Linked DNA regions of Homo sapiens: region 2 is linked to region 1. The links come from fine-mapping of genetic effects on gene expression. A gene starts in region 1. The other region holds a variant in brackets. All regions are shown on one strand. Distances are between the middles of the regions.

Region 1 (2,916 bases):
TATAGCCTCTGGAGTGGAAAAGGAAATAAAGACTTAGCATGGTTATGAAAATAGATTTGAGCTCGTGGAACCTCTGAAAGGGTCCCAAGGACCCCCAGGGCTTCCTCGACCACACTTTGAGACTCATTGAGATATGTAAATACTGCCAGTTGTATTTCTTCACAGATTAATCAACTCACAGATTTGGGTGCATTCATTTGTGCAGTCTTAGAAACAAATCTTTCCCTTTACCAGTATCTTATTCCATCTGGTAGACTCATTTCTGCTGCTGATGCTTGAAAAAAGTGTCATTTGCTACCACAGGAGGAAAACGGTGCTAGATGGATCATAACATACAGAAAAGCAAGATAGTTCCAAAATGTTTCCAAGAGCTTCTGGCAGGATCTGTCATTCTACAAATACTGCACAGGAAAAATTGCTTTAAATGCTGCATCTTTGCAGTAGAAAGATTAGGATTGAGCCAGGCTGTGAGTCAGGCAGAAAAAGGCACACAGAGGGGGATGAAAGAAAGCACTGGAGAGTCTTGTCATGCTTTGCCCTTGAAAACTATGCCAAGACCTCTTTTGTGTTTTTAAATGAAGAAATCCATCATGTTTTGTGATTGCTGTAATGACTCAGGATCTTCCACCTTCCTTTTAACTATAAACCGTAGCGTAGTTAGGTGTTTGTTTTCTTTGTATCATGCTTGCAAAAAGTGACGAAATAAAGTTAAAACCCTTTAACTGGGACTCCATTACGGTTCTGCTGTTCAGTGACCAGCTTGTTCATTATTCTCACAATATTATCTACTTTCTTCATTTCAGTCTGTCTCTTAGATCCTGGGCTTCTGATGTCTTTCCATGGCGGATGAATACAATTTAAAACACGAAAGCTGCTGGAGGAAAGGTTTAACGTTCCCCCTCCCCAAGGTGAAATCTTTGCCTGGCCTCAGTCACTAAGTCTCTCAGGAGCGGAAACTGAATGGACATTCCGGAGACGGTGAATAAGAATGATAAACGGTGGTTGGGGAGAACAGCGCGTTTCTTCCAGCGGAGGACTAGGCCCACAGGACGCATTCCCAACAGATGAGCGGAGCCGACAGCAAGTGTGCCACGAACGCCAGCTGGCCGCCTCACTAGAGAGAGCTCCGCCGCAAGCCGCCGCTTTTGGAGTGGAGTTCCACATGTCCTCCGCGCTTGAGCCCTGGGACGTCAGAGGCCTGGCGTGCTGCCACCGCCCCAGTTCACGTCGTGTGACCCACGACCAATGGAAGAGCAGGCAAGTATTCCCGGCGTCCGCTGTGATTGGTTCCCGGAGTGGAGGCGGTGGCAGAGGGTGGGCCTTAGGACGGGTCTCCCTTAAACTGGGCGATCAGGCAGCGACCCTAGAGGCGTCTGTAGGGTAAAGCTGGGGGTTCTGTAGCCGGAGGCGGCGGCGAGTCCAGAACGTCCTGGCCTTACAGGGAGAAGGCGTCACTCGCGGTTACAAGTGCCTGACCCTCACTCCAGTTGGCGGAGGAGGAGAAGGAAGGGGCCGGGCCGGGTCCCCTCCCCTCGCGCCCCGGATGGATGTGCCCGGCCCGGTGTCTCGGCGGGCGGCGGCGGCGGCGGCCACTGTGCTCCTGCGGACCGCTCGGGTCCGTCGCGAATGCTGGTTCTTGCCGACCGCGCTGCTCTGCGCCTACGGCTTCTTCGCCAGCCTCAGGCCGTCCGAGCCCTTCCTGACCCCGTACCTGCTGGGGCCGGACAAGAACCTGACCGAGAGGGAGGTACGCGCGGCGGACGCGGGGCGCGGGAAGGGCGGGCGACCGGCCTGCGGGTGGGCAGCGGAGGAAGAGAGGACCGAGAAAAGCGCTCGAGCCATTCTCGGCAGAGATTTCTGATTTTGCCAGTTGGAGGTCGGCTTCGTGCTCTTCTTTGTGTTCATGATTTTCTGTTTTCTTCGGCTCTGTAGGACGAGTCTCCTGCGAAGGGCTCAGAACACGCGTCCAGAGGCCCCGTGCCTTGTGCGTCAGGCAGTATGCTGATCGTGTTGTAATGTGGCTTAGCGTGACTGCCCAGACTGGTCCAGCAGTTCCTGCTGGGGGCGAGGGGGCAATATTTTGACAAAGAAGTGAAAACAGCAAAGTGTACTTTGGACACGGCTTAGTAAATATTCATTGACTGAAAGTAGGCAACCACTGCTTTTCTGAAAGGATCTTCCCTCTACCTCCTTCACCTGCTTCCTGTCCATACCTTACTTTGTTTGCATTTGGCAGAATGGGTGGGCTTAATCAAGTAAGGACAGGACAGAAGTACAGAACATCTTAATTTGTCTTGATTTTTAATTGGGTGAGGTTGTGTCCAAGGATATCCTGCCCCTCTCTACCTTAAGACCAACCTCCAGGGATAAAGGCAGATGGTGAAACATAATTGACTTTTAATTATAGTGTTTCTTGTATTGCGAATTGTTGCTTCACAGATGTTAGTTTTGCTTCTCAGATACAAGGTGATGTCTTTGAAGGCCTTCTGTGATGTTCAGGGTAATTGAGAGCACGTAGTCCATCATCAAGAGTTTCTTGCTGATTGATTTTTTCCCTAGATGAGGGCTTACAAATAAAGTACTTCAGAAGCGCATAGTGTACTTTAGAAATGTGCTGACCTATTTAAGTGCATGGTCAAAACCAGCACTTGATTTTTGCAGAAGAAAGACAATATATAAACTGAGAAAGAAATTAAACCCAAAGTACTTCCACAAAACCGAAATAAAGCCGATTCAACACCCTCTTCCTTGAATACAACAAAGGGTGAAAGCTGAGGTCTCATGTTCTTTTTCCTACTATCAGTCAAGGGGCCACTTGAGAGCTTTTTCTTTTTTCCTACACCTGTTCCTTCCACCCTGCCTCCTTGCCCCAGGTGCTGTAAAATACTCCTCCCATTTAAACCTTACTCTTCTCTA
Region 2 (2,916 bases), 26 kb before region 1:
ATTTGGGGTGTCTGAAATAAACCACCCCAAAACTTAGTGTTAAAAGAGCAACCAAAAAAAATTTATGTGAGATTATGGATTTGTTACTTAGCTTGATTTAATCATCCTGTAACGTGTACATATATCAAAATGTTATGTATACCATAAATATATAAAATTTTATCAACGAAATTCATAACAATCTCTCAGACCACAGAGAAATCAAATTAGAACTGAGGACTAAGAAACTCACTCGAAACCACACAACTACATGGAAACTGAACAACCTGCTCCTGAATGACTACTGGGTAAATAATGAAATTAAGGCAGAAATAAATAAGTTCCTTAAAACCAATGAGAACAAAGAGACAACATACCAGAATCTCTAGGAGACAGGGCTTTGCTTTTGCTGCATTCTATTCGTTGTGAACACAAATTACAGGCCAGTCTCGATTCAGTGTAGAAGGGAACTGCATAAGGACCACATACCAGGAGGCATAATTCACTGGGAGCATCTTTAGAAACTACCAGAGTTACCTGTTGCCCATACCAGTGGGGTAAGCCCTATGAATGTATATGAGAGTTTCAAACATCCACAAAACATTGGCTTTCTAATATTCGTATTCCCACTATTCCTTTCTTTTCATGATTCATGTCATTGTCCCATCAACATTTCTAAGATTTCCATTCCGTTAAGAGCAAAAGAGAATGTTGGAAGGTGGGGGAAAACATTTCTTTGTTTTCTACAGGGCCAGCTTCTTGGATGTGTGTGATCTGTTCAGTTGCAAAGGGTCACATGCTCAGAAGGACCGCATGCTAAATTTAATGCTTTGCAGTTACCCTCTTGAAATCCTTTATTTTTTAAGAAGGAATTCGACATTTCCATTTTTCAATGAGCCCCACAAATTACGCAGCTAGTCCTGGGCTTCTCTACTCTGAAATTGGGCAGGATCTCTCTTGATCTAGAATTTACTAAGGCATAATAGGGGCAAGAAAATCTTATGAAATAATGGGGGGTAGGGAAGAGATGGGAATGGAGCATGAGATCCAGCTTCGTTATTCTCTACTTGAGAAAAATAAGGCCCCAAAGATTAAACAACTTGCCCAAGGATATTGCTTGTTAGTGTCAGAACTGAAACCAGAAACCAAATGATCATATCCCTAGACTTTTAGTCTGCTTTCTCTTCCATAAAATGAAACTTATAATGTTTCTAATCCATTGCTCAGACAGGTAGACATGAATATTAATTGATAATGACTATTAATTGATCTGGAAAATACTTGTTTGGGGATCAATAATATGTTTGGGCTATTATCTAATGCTGTGTAGAAATATTAAAACCCCTGTTATTTTGAAATAAAAAAGATACCCACTTTTTATTTCTCTCTCTGA[T/A]CTCACTTAGATGAAATTACAAGTTTGACTACATAGTACGTCTCCAGTGACATAAACCACTGTTTGTTACAACTGGGTGCTTTGGAAAGAAGTTAAATGACTCACGGTAGAATCATGACTTAAGAGAAACCAACAGATAAAATTCTAAACATTATTAGTCATTCTAATTGCAATTTGGAAAAGAATAGCTGTGAATGTATCAAAAATATGAAAGGACTAGAAGAAACATGAAATTATTTCTCCAGAATTCTTTCAAGTTATTAAAAGAAATAACAAACTTCATGCCATTTTTATAATCATTTTGAATAAACACCATATTTTGAGTTCAGGGCCATTTTGGCAAACCCAGGGAAAAGCTCTTGCCAAATAGCTTGGATGTTCCCAAGAGCCATGAATATTTCACCATTTACTTCTCTGGACAGACCAGGAAGGAACAATTTACTAGGCAGTGAATTTTGGTTTTACGAAATATTGGCACATGCCCCAATGCAGTGGGCCTAACACATACTTAAAAATATCTGATAGCTCCATGTTAGCATTTTTCTTGTTTTATATTTCCTAATGGAGAAGTATTTTATGGAAAATTCTGAATGCCTAATTCTCCCAAGTTCATATATTCTCATAGCCTAGAGATAGGGAAAGCTGTAGACAAAGACAAAATGATTATGTGTGGAATAATATTTACATGGTCAATGCCCAGATAACAAGGTTTTTCATATCCAAGTACTTAAATTGTTGGGAGAGACTACAGAGCTTTAAGATTTTATTATCTCTGGCTTGTATGAACTGTCCCCACCAAAACATATACATGTATTTTGCATTTGGTACATGTAAAGAAAACTTGATATTAACCTCTCTACATGTACCATCATTTTAATTTTTTAAAAAGTATTAAGCTCATTCTATCGACACAGCAAACCACTATGACAGGCATTGTAGGGGAGAGTATATAAAGGAAATAAAAGACACTTCTCTGGCTTATTCAAATACATCATCTAGTTGCATAGAGAAGACAAACATAAGAAGCAAATAGACACTATGAGCCTATTAAGCCTAACAGATTACACCCTGAGTAGTAAAGAAAAAGACAATTAGATGAGTAGCCTTGTGGGATGGAATCAGACTGTGAAAACTTTTGGAGATGATTTAACCTAGGTCATCTGATATTAGATGTGTATGAAGGCAACCTGTGCAGAACTCCAGAGAAGAGAGGACTGGGATAAGGATCAATAAAAACCAGGATAAATAAGAGCTTTATGCTCAAATTCAGGGCCCAGTTAAGCTTTCTCTGACATACCTACTCATTTTCCCTACCCTCTCTATATAGTCTAATAATGACTTATCCACCTCCCTCCATCTCCTGTACCATGCCCATAAATCCAGTGTATGTGCAAGGTCAAAACAAATAAGAATTACCTGGGTAGAACTGATGATGTGAGGGTGGGGAAAGACACAAAAACAGATACAATACATATCCCTAATCTCCAAATCGTGAATTACAGATGGTAGTGACCAGATTAAAAGTGGGTCACCTTTGGAAATAT

Which allele goes with the higher level. Positions count from the first base shown, and alleles are read on the strand shown. Sizes are in standard deviations (SD) of each study's normalised expression.
As copies of T replace A in region 2, the expression in fibroblasts of the gene that starts at base 1,366 in region 1 goes up (moderate effect, 0.43 SD a copy in GTEx).

The links. PIP is the estimated chance that this variant, and not a neighbour inherited with it, causes the effect.
Region 2: its variant is the best candidate, but not a certain one, in a credible set for the expression of SLC19A2 in fibroblasts (GTEx, PIP 0.52).

Annotation. Positions count from the first base shown.
Region 1 is chr1:169,484,394-169,487,309 of GRCh38, reverse strand. It overlaps SLC19A2 (solute carrier family 19 member 2), which reads left to right and starts at 1,366. Exons shown (of 6, transcript NM_006996.3): 1 at 1,366-1,747. The coding sequence starts at 1,544. RefSeq lists enhancers at 932-1,001, 309-1,229, 1,012-1,261, 1,065-1,359, 1,902-1,961 and a silencer at 1,542-1,721.
Region 2 is chr1:169,510,395-169,513,310 of GRCh38, reverse strand. F5 (coagulation factor V) reads left to right here. Exons shown (of 25, transcript NM_000130.5): 25 at 1-1,360. Among named protein-coding and RNA genes, the nearest start is that of SLC19A2, 26 kb to the right of the region's middle. RefSeq lists a silencer at 2,373-2,573. The variant T/A (reference allele first, on the strand shown) is at 1,373.